7 separate regions of the Homo sapiens genome follow, and regions 1, 3, 4, 5, 6 and 7 are each reported to be linked to region 2. The links are microRNA targets in miRTarBase. Many come from high-throughput screens and were not tested one by one. Region 2 holds a microRNA gene; each other region holds the end of a gene's coding sequence.

Evidence for each region. Region 2 holds the annotated microRNA hsa-miR-7160-5p (UGCUGAGGUCCGGGCUGUGCC, at 2,247-2,267, opposite strand). A microRNA usually pairs through its seed, bases 2 to 8, with sites in the 3' UTR of a target mRNA and lowers its output. Matches are read on the target gene's strand: a 7mer-m8 pairs with bases 2 to 8, a 7mer-A1 pairs with bases 2 to 7 and ends in A, and an 8mer does both.
Region 1: the mRNA of MCRIP2 is a reported target of hsa-miR-7160-5p. Seed matches in the 3' UTR shown: 7mer-m8 at 2,362-2,368.
Region 3: miRTarBase lists C6orf141 as a target of hsa-miR-7160-5p. The part of its 3' UTR that is shown has no 7-base or 8-base seed match.
Region 4: the mRNA of BTLA is a reported target of hsa-miR-7160-5p. The part of its 3' UTR that is shown has no 7-base or 8-base seed match.
Region 5: the mRNA of CLIC5 is a reported target of hsa-miR-7160-5p. Seed matches in the 3' UTR shown: 7mer-A1 at 2,465-2,471, 7mer-A1 at 1,133-1,139 and 7mer-A1 at 87-93.
Region 6: the mRNA of ABHD15 is a reported target of hsa-miR-7160-5p. Seed matches in the 3' UTR shown: 8mer at 562-569, 7mer-A1 at 1,502-1,508 and 7mer-A1 at 2,014-2,020.
Region 7: miRTarBase lists SNAPC3 as a target of hsa-miR-7160-5p. Seed matches in the 3' UTR shown: 7mer-m8 at 1,240-1,246.

Annotation. Positions count from the first base shown.
Region 1 is chr16:647,671-650,751 of GRCh38, reverse strand. It overlaps MCRIP2 (MAPK regulated corepressor interacting protein 2), which reads right to left. Exons shown (of 5, transcript NM_138418.4): 4 at 2,868-2,969; 5 at 2,278-2,632. The coding sequence ends at 2,562. It overlaps WDR90 (WD repeat domain 90), which reads right to left and starts at 1,387. Exons shown (of 41, transcript NM_145294.5): 1 at 1,326-1,387; 2 at 898-989; 3 at 585-761; 4 at 390-498; 5 at 43-213. The coding sequence starts at 1,335. It overlaps LOC105371038 (a long non-coding RNA gene), which reads left to right and starts at 1,439. Exons shown (of 2, transcript NR_135177.1): 1 at 1,439-1,797; 2 at 2,137-2,294. RefSeq lists silencers at 1,013-1,142, 1,253-1,352 and enhancers at 528-1,350, 2,773-2,822.
Region 2 is chr8:2,075,775-2,078,855 of GRCh38, reverse strand. It overlaps MIR7160 (microRNA 7160), which reads right to left and starts at 2,267; the gene lies at 2,216-2,267. MYOM2 (myomesin 2) reads right to left here. Exons shown (of 37, transcript NM_003970.4): 11 at 2,574-2,715; 12 at 1-122.
Region 3 is chr6:49,551,198-49,554,278 of GRCh38, forward strand. It overlaps C6orf141 (chromosome 6 open reading frame 141), which reads left to right. Exons shown (of 1, transcript NM_001145652.2): 1 at 1-898. The coding sequence ends at 330. Among named protein-coding and RNA genes, the nearest start is that of C6orf141, 2.1 kb to the left of the region's middle. RefSeq lists enhancers at 186-255, 272-791.
Region 4 is chr3:112,463,475-112,466,555 of GRCh38, forward strand. It overlaps BTLA (B and T lymphocyte associated), which reads right to left. Exons shown (of 5, transcript NM_181780.4): 5 at 492-2,909. The coding sequence ends at 2,634. Among named protein-coding and RNA genes, the nearest start is that of BTLA, 34 kb to the right of the region's middle. RefSeq lists enhancers at 41-180, 2,618-3,081.
Region 5 is chr6:45,900,367-45,903,447 of GRCh38, forward strand. CLIC5 (chloride intracellular channel 5) reads right to left here. Exons shown (of 6, transcript NM_016929.5): 6 at 1-2,889. The coding sequence ends at 2,722. Among named protein-coding and RNA genes, the nearest start is that of CLIC5, 110 kb to the right of the region's middle. RefSeq lists enhancers at 562-1,250, 652-1,851, 1,555-2,399.
Region 6 is chr17:29,559,857-29,562,937 of GRCh38, reverse strand. It overlaps ABHD15 (abhydrolase domain containing 15), which reads left to right. Exons shown (of 2, transcript NM_198147.3): 2 at 1-2,391. The coding sequence ends at 377. Among named protein-coding and RNA genes, the nearest start is that of ABHD15, 5.6 kb to the left of the region's middle.
Region 7 is chr9:15,459,439-15,462,519 of GRCh38, reverse strand. SNAPC3 (small nuclear RNA activating complex polypeptide 3) reads right to left here. Exons shown (of 9, transcript NM_001039697.2): 9 at 894-2,801. The coding sequence ends at 2,654. Among named protein-coding and RNA genes, the nearest start is that of SNAPC3, 38 kb to the right of the region's middle.

The DNA of each region.
Region 1 (3,081 bases), not on the chromosome of region 2:
ATGGGTGAGATATGGAGTGGGGAGTGCAGGTGCGGCCCTCACCAGGCTCAAAGCACAGGTCACTGGTGTACAGGTTCCTGACCAGCAGGCTGGCGCACAGCCTGATGCTCTTGAGATGGCCGTAGCACCGGTTCAGGTAGACCAGGAGAACGTCCTGCAGATCGAGCTGCAGGCAGGTCCAGCGGGCTCCGGAGGGGGCCAAACCCACCAGATCTGCAGGATGGGCACTCAGGGTCAGCGCCCACCCTCCTGACAGCCCGCGACTCCCAGAACTGTGAGCTTGTGCCCCCGCCAGGTTGTCCTCCAGGCCGCAGAGGAGCCTCACTGGGCCTGCACCAACTCCCTCCAGCCACCTGTCCTGGATCATCCACACCCCATCTTGGTGTCACCTCTCTGAGGTGTCCTGGCCTCCAGGACCAAGGGAAACTGGAGCCACGTGGCCGTAGACTTAAACTCCTTGAAGAGGTTGGAGAAAGACACACGGATGACTTGGTTGTCCTGTGGGGACGGAGCAGGGCCGTGAGGAGACAGGGGCCGCAGGGGTGCCGGGGCTCCCACGCAGCCCCCAGCCGCGGGCTCCGTACCTTGGAGGACACATCGAGGTGGATGACGAAGTGCTTGCTGGGCAGGGGCCGAAAGAGCACATACAGGTATCGTCCCGTCAGCCCCAGAGACTGGGTGCTGCTCTTAGGGAGCTGGATGTAGTTGGCGGCAGAGACTGAGCCCCGAATGCGATACACGGCGCCCTTCAGGGTCTTGTCCTGGAGAAGCGGGAGCCCGCATCACCGACAGCACCCAGAAGAAGTGCAGCGGGGGCGAGGGGGCCCTCGGGGGCGGGGCAGCTCTCCTGGGGGCAGGGCAGGGGTGTGGGCTCCGGGCGAGCCCCCGGCCGCCTACCGTGACCACGGCCACGTCCCCCTGCTTGGCGGAGCGCTTCCACTCGTCCACCCGGAAGTGTCTGAAGACGTTGAGGAACGGGTGCTGCCACGCTGCGGGGAGCGGGCGCCGGGCGTCAGGGGACTCGGCCACGCGAGCCGGGGCCACTGCGGGGCTGGGCCGGGCCTCGGGGACCAGGCAGGAGCCGGGGCTCTCCGCGCCTTCCCCGGCGACGCCAACGCCAGCTAGGCTGGCGGGACGAGGCCGGGCGCCCGAGGGAAGCCAAGCTCCGGGAGCCCGAGGGTGGGCGCCCGGCAGACGGGACCCTGCCTGAGCGGGGACTCTGGCCTCAGGGCCTAGGCGGGGGCCCTGAGCGCTCCGGCCGCCGACCCTGGACCCCGGAACCCCGGAACCCGGGATCCTCGGGACCCCCGCCAGCCGCGCGCTACCTCGGGCCATGGCGCCGCCGCTCGAGCTTCCCGCCTAGGCCTCCGCGCGCCCAGCGCAGAGTACGCCCCGCGACGCCAGGCAACGGCTGCCTGGCAACGGTGCCACTTCCGCCATTACTTCCGCCGTCATGGCGGCGCCCTGGCCACGTGACCTCCCCGGTGGGAGTACCCCGCTCACGTCAGCGGCCTCCAGGGTTGCTCCAGCCGCGAATCCCGCTGCCCTTTGCCCCGCGGGCCTCCCAAGGCAGCCCCCTGTTAGCCCGACCGGCTTCGAAGCCCGCGCCGGTTGCGGATCCTCCGCCGCGCCCACCTGTCAGCGCCTCGGCCGGCCGGGGCTCCCGCCGCATGCAAGCAGCGAGGCGAGGTCGCGCTGAGGCCTGGCCATGCCACGGACGGCCGGGCCTCACCCTGCCGCTCTCTCGCCGTCCAGAGGCCCCTGCTCCACACCTGGGTACCCTGGGTCCTGACTCAGGTGGGCTGGGTCATCCCCGTCCATCAGGGAAGGTAGTGCGGGCGCCCGCGGAGGGGCTGGTTCCCACGTTCGTCCTATCAGGTTCCCCACGTACTCCTTCGCCCAGTGTCCTGCGGCCGGGCCCGGCGGATTCAGAATGGGACCTGGCGTTCTGAGACACAGCCCCAGTGCCGGTAGTGGGGGGTGGTGGACTGCACTCCGGGGCCATTTAATGTCTTTAGGCCTTGAGTCTCGGCTTCGGTCCCAGTCAACGCCAACGGGAGAGGAAAGAGGAACCAAGTGGGGTCCCCAGACTTCCAAGCAAGGTGGGCTGGCTAACGTCCCTCCTACCTGTCGCAGGGCAGCTGGGTGAGAAGCTAACGGCTTGAAGGAACAGGGCTACAAGGGGAGTTTGTGCTGGGCCTGGCGTCCCAGGCTGTGGACTGGAACTGGACATGAGAACCCCCCCTACACCCTCCCAAGTCAAAGACACTCCAAAAAGACAGTTTCTCCACTTTATTAGCCTGGAGCTCCTCCCTGCCAGCCCCAGGGGCTGGTCGCTGGTCCCTGGGCACAGTGAGCAGGGCTGAGGTCAGACGGGTTCGGCCCTTGGCCATGGCAGCTTGGTTGGGACAGCCGGGCCAAGGGAAAAAAAGGTGCAAAAGTCCAAATGCTGGCACTTCAGGTGTGGCCGGCACCCAGCCAGGCGCAGTGGGTGGGCAGGGCGCCATGCTTCTCTCCTGGCGACAGGTCGGCCGTGTAGCAGCGCCCCCTCCCAGCAGCCACTAGGAACAGCTGGTGATTCTCGCCAGGAACTGCTGCGCCCACCACTCGTCTAGGTCAATGGGCACAAAGTCTGTGGGCAGAGAAGGCTGGGCAGTGATGCTGCCTCCCAGGCCAGCCGGCAAGTCTCCCCTGGAGCTAACCACAAGCCGCTCACCCGGACTCCGAGTGCGGCAGGCGCTGGGAAGAAGGGGTTTCTGCACAAGAGTCCCCTCCCTCATCCCCTGGGGTGGGAACCTGGCAGGGCCTGGGTCAGGATCAGAGGGGCTGGGGGGTCTCTCCTGGGGGGACAGGGTTGGGGGGCTCACTCTGCAGCCGGGGATTGGGGGTCCTCTCCACGTACTGCACAGGCCTTGGCCCGCCCTCACCGGCTGGGCCACCATCCAGCTGCTGTTGCACCTGCTGCCAGGCTGTGGGAGGAGGGCAGTCGGGCTGAGCCAGGTCCCAGGCACCCCATCGCCCACCCAGGGCCTGATGGTCACCCTGGACTCCAGCCCCACACAGGGCTGGTCACAGGACACA
Region 2 (3,081 bases):
TGTTCACTGCCCTCACTCGGAATATGTAAGACCTTCCTTCAAAAAGCCCTGTGACCGGGTATTTGCAGATTTTCACCGGTGCATCATTGCACTGCACCCAATTATTCGTTCCTACTTCACATCTTCAAGTTAAAAAAAGAAAAACAACAGAGAATAGCAAATGTGGCAACCTACTAAATATACATAGGTATATGCATATATGCACACACTGATTATAACAGGACAATATCTCACGCCAGTAAAATCTTTGCTGCTAAGATATTGACTTGTATAGATAAACATTAGAAGACAGAGCTATTTAGAAAATGCAATATATATATTATATGTAATATCTATTATATATGTAATATATGCCCATGAATCTTAATAATTTATAGCTGAAGATCAATTTCTGTCATCAAACACATTTAGGCAAAAATCTCCTCAAAAAATTATTTTAGACGCATCCTGAACAGTTCTTGTTCCGACTTACGTGACATAGTCACGGCACCCCTAAGCTGCGGCTTGGCCCGTCTGAGGCCCAGGCTGGGGAAACAGGCTCAGCCCCCTCTGCCTCCAGCTCCCGTCCCACTCTGTGAGACCAAGGGCCCAGGTCCCTGGGAAAGCTGGCTTACAGTCTCCTAGAATAATGTTAGGACATTTCTTTCTAGAATGCCTCTCATGTGGAATTTAGAAGTCTTTTGAAAATATTAATTCCTGACCAGAAACCTGGAAATATAGGAAAGATTAACCTCTGTTTTTCACAGGTTGAAAAATGTAAGAAAAAAACCTTCACATGAAATTCCCAGGAGAAAAGAGCTAGTTCAGAAAATCAGTGTTGGGAGGGAGCACTTCAACCCCAGAGTGGTGCCTTCATCTGGGAAAGAACCAGCTCTCCTCCTAAGTATCCAGCACTTTTAATGAAAGCTGTCTGATCCACATGTCATGGGCTGTTTTAGCCGAAGAGAACAACAGGTCAAAACCAAAAGTCTGATGGGAAAACCTGCAACTTCAGGCAACAGCTGGCAAGTCGTAAGCCCAAAGGAAGGGCAGAGGAGGAGCTGCACCCCCCACTTCCAAATGCACCCTCATTCCCAAAGTGTTCCGTTGCTTTGAATTTCATGTTTGCGCTTTTTGTAATGAGGGGAGGAGCGTGGATTGTTAGCTGAGACAGTGCAGGAAATGGTTTTTGTCAACATGGCGGGAAAACTTATCAGCTGTCCCAGGAGAAAAGAAGATCGTTTTGAGGGTTTGTTTTTCTTGCTGTAGTTGCTTAATTCAAGGTAAGCCCGGAACAGCACTCCCTGCAGAACTGTCTCTAGCATATCAAAATATTAGTTTGATGGCACAGGTCTCAGCCAAACAAGTAGTTTTGTTGGAAGAGAAAAGAGAATTTAATCAGCATAAACAAACAAACAAACAAAAGCCAATTCCCTCATTTTTTCCTAAGATAATCACCTTATTTTTCTGTTTAATATACATATAAAATTTTGCATTTCTACCAGGAACCATCCTTTGTGGTTTTTTTGTTTTGTTTTTTTGTTTTTTGTTTTGTTTTGTTTTTTTTGATGGTGGAGTCTCACTGTGTTGCCAGGCTGGAGTCCAGTGGCGCAATCTTGGCTCACTGCAACCACCGCCTCCCTGGTTCAAGAGATGCTCCTGCCTCAGCCTCCCAAGAAGCTGGGATTATAAGCACATGCCAGCACACCCAGCTAATTTTTGTATTTTTAGTAGAGACAGGGTTTCACCATGCTGGCCAGCATGCTCTTGATCTCCTGAACTTGTAATCCGCCCGCGTTGGCCTCCCAAAGTGCTGGGATTACAGGCGTGAGCCACCGTGCCCAGCCAGAACCATCCTCTTTTACTCTCTGTCTAATTTCTAAATTCATTTTCTTCAACTATAATTTACTCCAAGAACTGGAATTTGTATTTAGGGCATAAATTACATATCCAGTAAACCCACTGGCTCTGTGCAGTACACTTCCCAGGCTCCAAGCGCTGTCCCCAGTACGGGAAGTCAAAGAATTCAAACTCCACTGGCTCCAACGATGACCTAAATGTAAGTTATCAACTCAAACACAAACTCCAGTATTTCGAAGCTCAAGATTTTTCACTTGGAAACAAGAAGAACACCTTATTCCTCAGTAGAGAAAAGGAAAGAACTTTGTTAGAAATGAGCTGGCATTCTTCGCAGCACTTTGTCTCTCAGGAGGGAAGGACAGTTCCAAGCTTTAATTCTGCTAAAGCCAGGGCCCTGTCCGGTACGGGGCACAGCCCGGACCTCAGCAGAACCACAGCGCGGGGCTCAGAGTGAGCCTGAAGACGTTGGTGGGATTGGTTACTGGGTGTGCAACAGGCAAACGAGCCTCCACTTTCAACAAAAAGAAACCCAGTGTGGTTATGCTGGGCTCAGCCTACTTGGCCGTATTTACCAATTACCTAAATAGGAACTTATACAACCAATTAGCCATGTACCTAGAGCCAATCAAAAAATGGGAACGTCAACCTGCATTGAGAAAAATTTCTCAATATATTGTCCATGGTAAGATTCCATGCGGAACGTTCCCATCCCCGGGAGAATGCAAGACGCTCACCGGTCCACAAAATAGCCCATGACGGGGCTCTCAGTGGTGGTGTTGGGCGGCTTCCAGGTCACGATGACGTAGTCCCGGTTGGCGTCGTGGCACTGCAAGTCCATGGGTGCACCGGGGGCCCCTGTGACCAGCGGGTCAGCATCTTGGGGCAGGGAGAGAAAAGGCACACGCCTGTCATTTAAAGGCTGGGGTCACTGCAAAGCCTGTTTACAGCTCCTCCAAGCTCCAATTCTATCCCCTTGATTTGACCACTGTTTAATTCTCATGTTCAAAGTACTAGAATATTTCTTACTCTGGCGGGTTGGTGACAAGAAATATAAAATTATGTATGAATTAAAAAGCTTCAAAACATAGAATCCTTGATAAAACACTGAGTCTACAATTTTTCGTCATTAGATCCTGAATTACAGGTCATCTTCTCTTGGTCCTGCTATGGTGCATAACGGCACGTTGGCAAAAATGTGCGGATGAAACAGTGACAATAATCTGGCATTTCTAACACCTGAGA
Region 3 (3,081 bases), not on the chromosome of region 2:
CGACAAAAGCGAATTTCTGGCAGGCGTGTAGCCCCGCCGCGGGACGCAGCAGACCCACCCAAATACGTGCTTGTGCGGGTGGAGGATTATCAGGTAACACAAGAAGTGTTGCAGACCTCCTGGGCCAAGGGTCGCATGACCACGAGGACTGAGGAGCACTTCGTGACCGCGCTCACTTTTCGCAGCAGTAGAGAGGGACAGCCTGGGGAACGCTGGGGCCCTGCTGAATCCCGGGCTCTCCAGGCACGAACAGGGGCATCCCGCGTCCACGCCGCGGGGAGGAGGGTTTCACCGTCTCCAGGGACTTGGCTCGAGGAAATTAAACTCTAATGAGTAGCTCGAGAAATGTTCCGGGATGGTGGATGAGCGATCATCCTTAAAAGAAAATGCTATTCTGGGAGCTCCAACCTGCAATTAACCTACAGAAGGAACCTTTTGAGAGGCTGGTGCAGCGCTTCGGGGAGGCAGATTAAGAACTGTAAGCAGCATAATACCTCCTTTGTGGCTTGAATTCCTTCGCTGTCTGGGGACCTAAGTCATTCAGAAGAGGTGGAGAAAAGATATTTTCAGATTGGCAGAATGTGGGAGTTTTGAAATGAGAAAACCTGTTGTTAATTTGCATTTTGGAATAACTCTCAATTGATCTCTTTTCTGTTCCCCGCCCCCCTCTTGTTTCTCTTTAGGACCTAGAAACAGAAGTGAAGTTTGAAGTCTGCTCTCTGCAAAGAGGGTGGGAGTGGGTGGAGAAGAGGCTTGTTTTAAAAGCCAAAAACAGAAAGTAAAAAGAAATGGGAAAGTAAAACCAAAGCAGCAAGTGACTCTCTTCTGATGTGCACTTTTCATTTTTCTCCCCCACATTTCAGTGTTAGAAAGAAAACGAGAGGAGCTAGGGAAAGAAGGAGTTGGGGACAGAAGACTAAGATTTCAACGTGAAATTCCATTTACAAAGGCTTTACTGCAAACAATAGCTAATTTAGTCCTGTAAACATGCATTTATCATACATTTTAATTTTAATATTAAAAATACTGCATGTAAATGTTCTGAACTAAAGGTAGATAGCAATATGTAGTTTGCCATAAAATGAATGCATGTCTTATTCTTTTCCATAGTTCTTCATTAATGAGACTTGTAGTCAAGAATAGATTGAAGATACCATTCTCCTTGTGTAGTTCAAAAAAATCTCCTCTGGTAATACTGAAACAACTAATTTTTCTTATTTTGTTTGTTCCTCTTTATTATTAAATACTATGTGAATTAACTCTTTAGTAGTTGGCCTGGTTGAAGCTCTGTGAGGAGCAAAGCAGCCCTCTCCAGGTGAACTGCTTGACTTTACCACCTGAAGGAGTATTTACTGCAAGAATTAACAAAGCAGGTAGGACTCTGGCTTTTGATGAGCAAATAGTTGAAAAGTGCCTCCTTCCCCAGTCTTCCCTTTTGCCTTCATTTTTAGTTTAGAGCTTGAAGTGTTCTCAAAAGATCATCTGATCTACCTCTTGCCTCCTGGCAGGCCAGATAGATAAGATGCCCCTGTTTTACTCATGAGCCAACCTAGGCCTAGAGGTCTTGTAGCATGTCTAAGTCACACAGCTAGTAATTGCATATGCTTACTAAGTGGATGAAGAATGTGATAATCTCCCTCCTAAAGGTTTGGGGCAGCCTTTAGAGGATTTATTTGACCCTTACTTAGGGGTCAAAAGATGCCTGAGGATATCCTAGGTTTTCTTTCTTTTTCTATTTTTTTCTTTTTTTTGAGACAGAGTTTCTCTCTTGTTGCCCAGACTGCAGTGCAACGGCACGATCTTGGCTCACCACAACCTCTACCTCCAGGGTTCAAGCGATGCTCCTACCTCAGCCTCCTCAGTAGCTGGGATTACAGGCATGTGCCATCACCCCGGCTAATTCTGTATTTTTAGTAGAGATGGGGTTTCTCCATGTTGGCCAGGCTGGTCTTGAACTCCCAACCTCAGGTGATCCTCCTGCCTCCGCCTCCCAAAGTGCTGGGATTACAGGTATGAGCCACCATGCCTGGCCAATATCTTAGGTTTTCTAACTCATGTTTATGAGAAGTACTAGAATCACCTTAATGTTCCTGAATTCTGCAAGGCCTCTTGGCTGGAGAATCATCACTAGCAGTTCTTAGGCCTGTGAGACCCTCACTTGGGAGAGGAATTCAGCATCTGAGCTCATCTGTGTTCAAAATTGCTTGACAGGTAGAAAAGATTCATCCCTTAAAATGAATCTCTTTTCCTTAACAACCCTCCCTGACTCCAGTGGGAGATTAACTTACTTGGCATGTAAGTTTCAGACCTGAGCTTATTAATTTGGTTGAATCATCACATGTCCCAGGTGACTAATCATTGAATATAGAGAACAAAAAAAGTCTCTTTCACAATAACCAAAAATGGTAAGTAGCATCACTCAGCTGCCTTCTCTGGAGGCAATTTCTGGCGTTCAGCTGCTTGGGTTCAAAACTGGCTCTACCTCTTTATTAACTTGTGTCCTTGGGCAAGTTGCCTTATCTCTGTGTGCCTCTGTATCCTGATTTGTTAAGTGGGGACAATAAATAGTATCAACTTCATAGAGGGTTTTTTTTTTTTAGGGTTAAGTTAAATGAAAATACTTAGAACCCTGCCTGTCATACAATAAATCCTCAAAGTTAGTTACATTTTTTATTATTAGCACGGTTATTGTTTAGTTCACTTTTCATCCTAACTAGGCTTTAGTCTTTTGTTTAGTAACAAAAAGCAGAAATTGTATAACACAAGAAAGCTAATGAAAGTCAAGCCGGTGGTTTTTAATAAGACTCTTCTCTACTCCTGAAAGAAAGGACTTATTTCTAGCTTTTCCTAACCTTTAATGGATCAGTAAGTATATTTCTTAAATTCTTTAGAAATGACCTTCACATCTTCTGTAGGGACTCATGGTAAAGCTCAAAGGACTAAGGTACACTATCCTTAACAGTCACTGAAAAGAGTTTACATACCTCCTAGTTCTGGGCAGATGGGAGCTTTGAATACTTTCTTTGACCTGTCAGGTTAGTTTGTTTTCCCTCTGGGATTTTAAATCTGATGCCCTGTTGT
Region 4 (3,081 bases), not on the chromosome of region 2:
ACTGATTGTAACAAAGGCACCACTGAAGTACAGGATGTTGATGATGGGAGAAACTGTGCATGTGTGGGGGAAGACGGTATAGAAACTCTCAATGCTCACCGCTTAGCTTTGCTGAACCTAAAAGTGCTCTGAAAAAAGTTTATATATTTAGCAAAATAGATATGATCGCGCCAGAGAATTCATTCTGGGGACTAGATAGTTTTGGTTGGTGCACAAAACTGATCAAATAAACCACATATACCAAACCTAGCCTCTACTAGTTTTCTCAAATTGTGGACACTGGGAAACATATTAAAATTGGTTGGCATGTCTTTTAAAGATGATGATTAAAGAGCCATTTTCTAGACCTCCTGAATCAGAATTTCTTAGTGCTGCAAGTTAATAGTCTGCAGTTTAGCAAGTTATTCGGGTCGCTTTTATGTGTCAGGGGGTTTAAGAATCAGTATTCTATTCATGTCCACACATTTTGGGGTACAAAATCAGATGCCAAATTGATTTCAAATAAGTTTTAATAACTTTACCTTCTCATTGAGCACAATCACAAGCTTAAAATTTGTGAAAAACCATTAAATTATCTACATATTCTTTTTCTCAAACCCTCTATAAACTAATGAAATAAGCCATGTAAATAATAGTGAAGTAGAGTCATTTGGGAAAATGCATGTATGTCTCTGACACCATTTTGAAAAGGAATAAAAACATAAATGATTTGTGATTTTGGCAAACAGTACAAATATATTAATACATCTTAGAGATGAAATCATTATCAGCATTATCTTTACTATAAGACATACTAAGGATATTTTAAATAAGACAGAAATATTTTGCTTTTAAGTTTGAGAGAATCATGAAGGAACTGTTCAATTTCGTGTGTTCATCTGATAAGAGGACAGCTAAATGTATCCTCCCCATATTTCCTGTTTCTATTTTTAAGAATACCACAAGCAGCTATTCTAACATGTCTTTCTTACATAAGTTGTCCACAAATGCAGCCTGGCTAAAACAGCCTATCTCGAATTGGTTGCTTGAAATTCTAGGTGTAATTGGCAAAATAACAGTGACTCAAAAGAATATTTGCACCCCCAAATCTAAGGAGCTAAAACTTAATGCCAGTGTTACTTAAGAAAATCTCTCCACCACAAAACCTCAGTTTTGTCTTTTTGTATATATACCCCACTTGTATTCTAAACTCCATAATTTCACATATTATTTTCTTTAATGACCCATTTACTCTAGTATTTTGAGCTTCATAAGCAAACTGAAAATATAATGTCAATTTGATCAGTTTCTCGTGCACCATTTCTGTTGTCACCCACCCCACCTAACACACACACACACACACACACACACACACATCACATTCCTTTGTGCAGCAGCTCAGCTCACATATTTGTTGAAATGGATTTTAACCTTTGCTATCCACTTTGTATGAAGACTATTACATTATTCAGTAGCAGCACCTGAGAATTCGAATAGCCTCAAACTGTTGAATAAAATTATAGGCTATTTTTGAAATAGTTTAACTCAAGTACTTTGGAAAGTCCAAAAATCTGAATCCATCTTTTGCTATACTCTTAAGTGGCTGCAACCTCAGTATTTTAAAATAAATGATTAGCAAACTAAAATATGTCACTACAGATGATTTGCCCTGATTCCTTAGTAAGAAGAACAGCAAGATGCAGATGTGGTGAATGAAAGCAAATTGACCCCTACAGACCAATTAAATATTCTGGGTTTTCCTCCATTCCATTAATTGCACTTTAACTTGCTATCAAGTCAAGCATGAAGCAGTTTAAGCTATCTTCACTTGCCCAGTGATACCTATTCTGACTAACTTTTAAACTATTCAGATGCCCATAAGTATATTAATTCAGCAGCATTATGTCACATTCCTATCCATTAGTCTATGTGACCCAGTGAGTCTCTACTTTCCTCATAAATGTGCTATACGTTGACTGCTCCATTAATACCTATATTTGCTTATCAATCTAACAGAGTAGATATAAGCATTTGTTTGCCAGGTATGTGGAACATCTACCCTATATCCAATTGGTATATTCTATATTTTTATTGCACCATTTATTATTTTCATTTTCTTACATCAAGCCTAAAATGATTTCTCCTTTGCATTTAAGAAACACCATTCTTAGACTGACACAGCAAAAATTTCTTATTTTGGAAGACTGACTTGAAATATACAATCATTACTGTATTTATGGTTGGTTAGTCAAATTGGGACATTTTGTTTTCAAGAGTGTGTAGTGAACTGATGCAGGTAACACAAACCTCTTTTCCCTACAAGTCTTTCCAATAGCTTCAAAGGCAAGATCGAGTTTGTATATTGGGTAAAATGTAGCTAAGTTTAAACGTTCTACTATTCTGCTACTCATGATGTCAACCAGTTTTGGAGAGATTTTGTTATTCAAGGCTATAATATAAAAAGCTCCCAAATAAGTTTCTGAGAGAAATTTTAATCATTTATCCTATGGACCCTTAAGACCCAAGCACTAACATGAACATTTCTAAAGTAAAAATTCTCAAATTGAGAAATATTATTTGACATCCTGTTGAGCCCAGACAATGATGTCAACATGCTGATCATTCAATGGTCCCTGTTGGAGTCAGAAACAGACTTAACTCCTCACACATATGGATGCATATTCTGTTGGTGCTTCTTTTACATTTCTTGCCAGTCTTGAGTTCGGTCCAATGACAGAATGGTTCAGGGAAGCATAAACAATGCCTGGTTTGTTTTCTTCCAGGCATGGATTAGAATAAACTTCAGACCCTTCCTGCATCCTGAAACAAAGGTCAGGGTCATTATCATAAATTCCAGTTTCTGATAGCAGTACTTGGGAATTTTGCCTGGTGCTTGCTTCTGTTTGCTCACTCTTAAGGTGAGCATCAACCTACAATAGAAAAAAAGATGGTTTTAAGTGACACTTACGGCCATGGTAGTGCATATTCATTAGCAAACTATGAATGAAAAGCTTAAATGGAGTCATGTCCATTGTGAGAAATAATCTACTGTTCCTCACATACTCTGCTGACATCTACACTTTCAGCTAAATTTCAATTATT
Region 5 (3,081 bases), not on the chromosome of region 2:
AGCTGTATAGTTGTGGGGTCCCAACTGCAGACCCTCCCGTGCTCCCTGAGTTGTTCTTGGGACACCTAAGGACCTCACCACACTGTTGCTGAGACATGATGTGCTGCACATATGATAAGAAGGCCAGACAGGCTGAAGCATCTGGAGAAAGATCTCTTTTGAAACAAAAAAAAAAAGGAAGGTAATATTAATATTATTGTTACTTTAATATACCATAATAAATCTAGTCATAAGACACCATAACTAACTCTTAGTCCATAGTCACTTGCATTATATGATAATCCAGTGCTGAAATATAAAGAAATTTCTGAATTAAGTACCCAGAAGTGCCTTCCTTCTGTACTCCTCCCTCTCTTTCAAATGGCTATCATTGATCATATAACACCCCCACCTCCTTGTCTTAATATATTTATCTCTGTAAAACTAGCTCAACCACAGAAGGGACATCTAGAAACAGCAATATTGATTTGGTTTGGCCTGTTTGTTTTTAAGGACTTTCCAGTTGCTGAATTCTGAACATCCAATCCGAGTCCTTGGAATTCTGCAGACTTCTCTGGGGTGGAGTGGCCTCACCGGAGGCTTGGTTCTGTTTTCTCTGTGGCAATTGGCTATGATTCACAGATGTGTTTCCAGAACAGCCCAACTGTGGGTCTCAGGGAAGTAAACTGCCTCTTAGGTCATCCTGCCTGTGCTGTAAATTCGGGGAAGGATTTCTGAGTACAGCAGGATTTCACACTAATTAAAAGGCCTTCGGGATCATTTCAGCCCTCATCCCCCAGGAGGCCAGTTTGGGGCTTTTCCCTACAGTAAAAAAGGACTCTTTCCTCACCAGTTCTCCTTGTTAAACATCTCCAGGGCACAATTTCCAGGGGGACCTGGAAAGGTTCCTTTTGAGGTGGAAATGAATCAACTCATTCCGCCTTTTCAAAGCTTTCTCAGGCTTATAAAGTGTCCTACTGAGAAAGTTCCTCTTCCTCAATGGGCTCTAGGAGACCTCCTGCTTCCTCTCCTCTGATTTGATCAATGGGTTACTTTTTTTCTTCAGAGATCCCTGGAGGCAGGTAGGTCCAGGGATTGCTTGGGTTAGAATTTGTTGATATTTCTATGGAAAGGACCCGTGCTATCCTGCCCTTGCTGAGAAATGAGCCAAGTCCAGGGGCTTTCCAGCACTTGGGAGCCTCACCCTTTACCAGCGAACACTATAGAAGGGGGATTGTTGAAGGTAAGGGCCTGTGGCAAATGGATTTTCTCACCGGGCGTTCACTGGGAGAAGGAGTTGATGAGTGCATTTTTCTTAGTTTCCTCTGCACAGGTCCCCAAGCTCAGGCTGGGTAAGCTTTTTAGGAGATGAAACTTAAGGAGAATGACAAAAGAGTGAAATATTAGCTTAAAAATTTTTCCTTTTTTTTTTCACCTGGCAGTTGAGTCAGATTGTAGGAAAATTAACCCAGATGGGTCTACATTTTTCTTCAAGTTCAAACCACATGGTTTCCTAGTCAGAAAGTCTCATGGACTTTCTTCCTAAGGTGTTCTATGATCAGACCACCTCCTAAATGTGGCTTTTACCCATTACAGGCTACAGTTGAATCAGGCAGGAGCAGCTGCTGGAGAGCACCCAGCCGACAGACCTGCATTCCAGAAGCAGCTTGGAGAAACTGGGAAGACATTTTTGACCCATTCTTGGGTTTTTACTGTAAGGTTAGCAGTTACATGATGCCACCAGTCCAAGACTTAGATCATGAGAGAAGGCCTTTTTAAAAGTTTACCAGGGAACATCGAGGCTCATAAAGAACTCTTTTGTCTTCACCCATCTCTCCTCCTCCCACTCCCATCCACTTTCTCATAGCTCAAAAACCACTCATTGGTAAGCACAGTCAAACCCAGGCCTGTAATCACCTCTGAAACAACTACTCCTAAGCAAGCAAACCCCATGGCTGGTAGACCCCGTGGGTATTTTGGCATCAACACTGCTCCCCTCCCCTCCCATCCCAGTCACTGCAGTTTAGAATTGCATGCCAATTTCCTTTTCTGGCAGGGCCTGGACGGCATGGAAGCCAGGGACAGCATGGGCCAGGTGCGCAGCAGCAGCAGCGCAGCATTCCTGGCACTGCAACAAACTGAGAATGTGTCTCAAGTGACTTTCCAGTCTGGCCCTTAGTGCCCAATAACCAGAGTGTCAGAAGTAGTGAGACTGAAGCTGTGTTTGCCAGACACCCAAGTCCATAGCCAGCTCGGTACTCCTCCATTCACTCTCTCTGTCTCCCCTAATGGGGTAATAGATCTCTTTCTAAGAAGGATGAAGATGGCGTTTGTCCTTGGCCTTGTAGGTATGGACGGAGAGGAGGGTAGAAAAGGAGTTGGTGTTGCATGTTTCTAAAGCATCTGAGAAGGTATTTTGATATTGGCAGAAGAAGCTAGTGGCAATCCCATATGTGGGCTCTCCAACACTGACTGACCCCAAACATGCTGAGCCCAGATCAGGCTGGCCGGCCGAAAGGTGGACTGTGTCTATCATTTCTGCTAGATTCCTATGTGAGGAGGCCAGGGATGGTGCTGACCTTCATGAAAGATAGCAGGCTGGAGTTCCCATGATACCAGCAAGATGAGGCTTGATTATAAAAAGTGCGCCTCAAGGCAGTGATACAGAGGAGTCTATGAAGCTGGAGTCTTAGGGGAGTGGTTGAGTCCTTCTGCAGCGGGGATGGGGCAAAATGGCTGTGCTCAGGATCGGCTGAGGCGTTTGGCGACATCAGCGTAGGCCAACTCGATCTCACTGTCAGCTGCACAGGTGTTGGTGAACTCATCACGGGCATAGGCGTTCTTGAGGTACCGCCACAGGCCTGTCATCTCAGCCGGGATATCATAGTTGCGGTATTTCTTGGCCACAATCTAAAACAGAGATGGCAGGACAGAGGTGGTGTGAAGGCATGAAACAAATCATTAGAAAGTGTTAGTGGCCGTCCCAGTGTGTGTGCACTGCAGGAAACCTCCGTGCATCACCACGGGCCATCAGTGATATGTTTGAAATGCAAGGTGGCAGTGCTGTCTTCTTTTTGTTTTGTTTTAATTTAATTTCTTAAG
Region 6 (3,081 bases), not on the chromosome of region 2:
ATGTCGATGAGGCAGCCGTGCCTGTGCTGTGTATCTGCAGTGCTGACGACCCCGTGTGTGGACCCCCAGACCACACTCTGACAACTGAACTCTTCCACAGCAACCCCTACTTCTTCCTCCTGCTCAGTCGCCACGGAGGCCACTGTGGCTTCCTGCGCCAGGAGCCCTTGCCAGCCTGGAGCCATGAGGTCATCTTGGAGTCCTTCCGGGCCTTGACTGAGTTCTTCCGAACGGAGGAGAGGATTAAAGGGCTGAGCAGGCACAGAGCTTCCTTCCTTGGGGGCCGTCGTCGTGGGGGAGCCTTGCAGAGGCGGGAAGTCTCTTCCTCTTCCAACCTGGAGGAGATCTTTAACTGGAAGCGATCATACACAAGGTGAAAGACCTGGCCTGAGAACCCCCAAGTCCTGCAAAGAAAAACAGAGCTGGGCAAGGGGGAGTCCTGGAAAGATGGGGCGGACTGAACAGAGGGAGCTCCAGCTCTGTGCTCCTCATTCAGTCCCTCTCTCTTAAATTGGTGCCTTGAAAGAGAAGGAACGTCCTGCGAGCCTGCACTCACTTCATCCTCAGCAGAACTCCTGCCTGGCCTCTGCTCAACATATCCCTACTCATCCGGTCAGCAGCGGCGCGTTCCAGTCACTGTCACCTGTCACTGACATCACAAGCCAAAGGATAGCACTTTTTCAATCCATGGACTCAGGAGAAAATGCCCTCTTACTGGCAGTGGCTAGAGGGATGAGACGTTTGTGTATGTCACTGGGCAGTGACCCCGATTCTCAAGCTGGAGCCATTTGATGTCATGAGGACAGGATGTTTGTGTCTCGGCCCCACTTCCCTCATTTGCTCTGTGGTTGTGGCGCCCTGCTTTGACCGAATGCTCTGGCAACTGCGGCAGCAGGCTTGTGTGTGTGAGAAGGGCGGCAGAGGCAGTGGGGCTGGCTCGCTGAGGGCTGAGCAGGTAGAGAATGTGAATGTCCATCTCAAGGAATGCGAAGTTCCAATCTCTCAGAGGAGCTCTGCAAGTCTCAGCTAGGAATGGGGCTGATCTGGCCCCCAAGCCTCACTGGAGAGATCCCAAGGGTATTTTACAAATAGGAAGCGCTCTCATGCAGGATCTGAGGGCTTTGCTAGACCATGGTTCAAGGAGTCAGAATCTTGGCTACCCTACATGCTCCCTCTGGCACCATTTCAGGGGATTACTCCAGAGAGCTGCAGCCAGAACTGTTTATCTCCTGAGATATGGACTTTCTCTAAGTCAGGAAAAGCACAAACCTCATAACTTAGGTGTTTTCTGGTTGGTTGCTCCCTTTTCTGATCCTACTACTGGCCTCTCCCTTTCCAGAGCCAGGAGACACATCTGGGACCAGAGGAAACAAAAGCACCAAGAGGTTGACTAGAGCTGACCAGTGATTTACAAATATTTCATATTCCAATGCTTCGTCTGCTCAATTATTCAAAAGGCCATCCCTGTAAAGGCAGAAAAGCTTCCTCTTAGATCTGGCCACTCAGCAAATAAGTGGGTATTTGGTTTTATGAAGAATAATGCTGAGGACTAGAGATATAGTATATCAGAGATAATATATAGTATACAGGTTGATCTAAATATTCTGGTTTGGATTAGGCAATTAAAATTTTTTTGGCAACAGGACATATGTTTCCATGTGTTGCTAAGATTCAAAAACTTTGCCCTGAAGTTTTATTTTAATCGTCATTGAGAAAGAGGGCTCCTGTTCTGACCTCAAAAACAGCAAAGCTGTTGTAAAGAAGAGAGCTGCTTATACGAAAACCCACATTCCAAGACTTGGTATAAGGTATTCCTGAGGCCTTGATTTCAGGTTTGGATAATCTTGCCCCAGATTCTAGATCTTGTTCTTCTAGATCAAATCAGAAGAAACTTTGAAATAACTCCAAGAATCTGCACTGAAATGTAGACAGCACTCGATAATCTAAGGGACATTATCTTGTTGTGAAAAATTATCTCCCTCCTGGCTGGGAGCGGTGGCACACACCTATAATCTCAGCACTTTGGGAGGCCGAGGTGGGTGGATCACGAGGTCAGGAGATCGAGACCATCCTGGCTAACACAGTGAAACCTCATCTCTACTAAAAATACAAAAAATTAGCCGGGCGTGGTAGCGGGTGCCTGTAATCCCAGTTACTCAGGAGGCTGAGGCAGGAGAATGGCGTGAACCCGGGAGGCGGAGCTTGCAGTGAGCTGAGATCGCACCACTGCACTCCAGCCTGGGCGACAGAGTAAGACTGTGTTTCAAAAAAAAAAAAGAAAAGAAAAATTATCTCCCTTCTCCCCACTTCTTGTTTCTCCTCCTCCATATTCCTCATCTGACGTTCTTTTGCCGTTTCTAAGCAGGATAAATAAAAAGGAACTGAAATTAAGCTGCTCTACTGCCGGTGAACAACAGCCTTGGTGTAAGCCTTGGTGAGGGAGATTTACTGCCATCTGGCCATCCGCTACCACCAGCTGCCCTCCACATCTGGTACAGTGAGGATTTCAGTTAATTAGGGTCCCGTAGTCCCAGTTGCCCTGCAAAATGGGAAGCAGCCTAGTGGTTTTTAAACCCTAAGGCTTAAAGAGTCCCTAAGGGTGAAAATCTGCATAGTTTCTCTAGAAACTATCCAGATAATGCAAGATTCTGGTTCTTCAAGAGAATAGCTTTTGGAGAAATAGTGGTTGGTTTTCCTTTCCCTTTTGATAGGAAAGAAAGTTTTCCAGGGAGAGAAATGTATAAACTTTGTAGTTACAGTCAGAAGAATGGCAGAATCAGCCCCAGTTCACGTTCCATTAATTCCTTTGAACCCTGAACTCTAGTGACCCGAACCCTAAAGTATTTCTCTTCCGTGGCCCTTGTGCCAGATGCACCCACTGCATATCCCAAGAACATTCTCTGATTTTCCCATTACTACTTGAAGACTAGGGCTGAAATGCCTGTTTTGTGCTGAGAAAGTGTAATTTCTGTTCAAGCAGGAAAGATTTGGATGGCCCTGTCCTTTAGCCTAATGATTCAAGAATCACACAGGTGAATTCTGCTTTGGTAAATAGCTAATTGTGTGAAGCCAGCTGGAGGA
Region 7 (3,081 bases), not on the chromosome of region 2:
TGTTACATTTGATTGAAATAAGCATAAAGAAAAGCTGCCTCGAAAAAAGAGAAAAGCTGTCTTAAATCAGGGGTTTTATAGCTCCAGAAATATACAAAGTTAGGAATTTCTTTTGACTTGAACTTGGTGGGATACCTGTATAACTGATACATAACACACGGGCAAACTGTGGGAGTAACCTGGTTGATTAACTTTTCTCCTCAGTTTCACCAGGGAACAATAATAGGTACCTGAGTCTTTGATGAAAAACTTAACCTTAAGAACTAGCAAAATAACATTCTCAAATAATTAATAAAGAATCCCAGTAGCAGAAATGTTTTAACTGGCATGTTTCTTCTTTGTCCGCTAAAATGTATTGACACCACACATGGAATAATGCATTATGACAATAATTAACTTTTTGAAGTTTGGTGTTTTGAGAGTATGAAATGAATGAATAAGATAAAATATCCTTGCATATGCATGTAAGACCTATAAGGAACGCAGTATTGAAAATAAAGGAATCAAAATTTTTACCCATGGAATTTTAGGGTTGGGTAAATCATTCATTTATCTTAAATCTATGGTTTGCTGGCAGTTATCAATCTGCTCAATTTTAGCATTGTTGTATACAAGAAAGTAAAAATTTAGGTATAACATAAGCCAGCCTCTTAAGTTCTCTATACTGATTATCTGTGTACTGACTGAATCAGTGAATGAGAACACTAGACATACCAGAAACTCGTGCTTGTCATCTCCAAGCCAATGGACTTAACTGTTTGTGGCATTTAAGTCCATAAAACATACTTCACTGTCAAACACATAGGCTTATAGGTTTCGTCAGTTTTCCATGTGTAAGATAAATGTCTGTTCTTAGCCATCCAGATATTCAGTCAAATTTAAATACAACCTAGGAGAGAGAAAGTGGAATTTATTTATTTTAAATGATGCATTTGAAATCTATAGTATTCCTAAAAGTCTTCTAAACAGTATTAAATGTTCTACCCATAAAGGTTCCCAGAAAATATTTGAATAAATCTATCTGATGGTCTAGACCTGAAAATAAAGAAAGTTTATTTTGCTGGGCGCTGTGGTTCATGCCTGTAATCGCAGCACTCTGGGAGGCCAAGGCGGATGGATCACTTGAGGTCAGGAGTTCGAGACTATTCTGCGCAACATAGTGAAACCCTGTATCTACAAGAAATAAAAAAATTAGCCCGCCATGGTGGCCTGTGCCACCATGTCTCAGCTACTCGGTAGGCTGAGGTGGGAGGATCACCTGAGCCTAGGGAGGTCAGGGCTCCAGTGAGCCAAGATCACGCCACTGTACTCCAGCCTGGGTGACACAGTAAGACCCTATGTCAAAAAATAAGTTTAAAAAGTTTTGGTTTTTTTTTTTTTCCTCAGAATAAGATGAGAGTAACTAGAATTACTATAGTAAGGGGACCAGAAGAATGGAAGACCTGGGCCAGGAAAACTTATTTTTTTTCTTTTTGCTTATATAATTTTGGTATATATCCAATAGTATCATTACCGGAGAATAAGTGAGCCAGAGCTAGCAATCAATAGGATCTTGATTTTTCCATGTCCCCACAGTCATACGAAATCTGCTATTGTTTTTTAAATCATAGTATTAAATTGACATATTTTAAACTCATAACATTCATAAAGCTTTTGTCAAGAAATAAAGCTTCAAGTTAATGTTATTTCTGGAGTTATGAGTATATACTCAAGATCTTTTTAAATTCATTATTCACATAGTCTTATTAACATGTCTTGTATGCCTAGTTTCCTCCAAAACAAAACCTAACATTACTAAACAGCACACTAAGATTAAATTCCCCCAAAGCAGCCGGGCGCGGTGGCTCACGCCTGTGATCCCAAAATTTTGGGAGGCTTAGGCGGGTGGATCGCCTGAGGTTAGGAGTTTGAGACCAGCCTGGCCAACATGGTGAAACCCCGTCTCTACTAAAAATACAAAAATTAGCCAGGCATGGTGCCAGGTGCCTGCAATCCCAGCTACTCAGGAGGCTGTGGCAGGAGAATCACTTGAATCCGGGAGGCGGAGGCTGCAGTGAGCTGAGATTGCGCCACTGTATTCCAGCCTGGGCAACAAGAGCGAGATTTTGTCTCAAAAAATAAATAATCCCAAAGCTATTAATTTTGTCTTATTTGTAAATAATTCATTCTCCCTAGTTTCCATTACAGTTATTTGAAGGATCTTTACCTTGGAAGCCTCATGGTAGAAGGTGTAGCTCTCACATTCTTCAAAGAATTTTCAAAACACTTCCACTACTTGATGTATCATTAATAATTCTATCTTTAGCAAAAAACTCTGGACAGAGAATGAATAGGGAAGGCATGGATTGGGAGAAAGAATATGTGTGTCTGACAAAGGATTTAAAGTCAGAATATATAAAGTACTACAACTCAACTCAAAATGGGTAAAAAGCACTAAATTAAATACTATCTGGAATAAATATAAAATTAAACTATGTTATAAACATTTAAATACTATCATTATAAGAAAATCTGTCATTTGGACTTTTTTTTGATAGCTTTAGCGGACTGTTCAAAGTGGATCCTGTTCCTCAGTGGCGTTTCTTAGAAATAAGGTAACCATCCAAGAGAACAGTTATTTCATGAGGGGGTATTTTTGTGAGTGTAGCTATTCTTAATTAAAGGTTCCAGGATCAACATAAGGATAAGCAAGGAATTCCCCCAGTTTGTTGCCTTCTGAATCATAGTGCAGCATTCGGAAGCAAACATCACAAAAGAAGCATGGGTCCTCTGGTGCAAAACTGTCATTGTTCGTCACCCATCTGTAGTTTTTAAAAAAAGAAGTACATCATTACAATCAAATTTGCCATACTTAACATGCTTTATGACCTGTAGCAATATGTAAATATAACATTCTATTTCCTTATCAGTCTGTTATTAATGCATAATAATCCCTTAATTTTGTATACATAGATACAAATACATCACCACCAATACTCTCTCTACAAAGCGAAAGGGCATCTAACATTAAGAAACACTGCAGAATGCTGTTTCTCTGTAATACTTACCCTTAAAGGAAGAATATAAATCTATTTGAAAGCA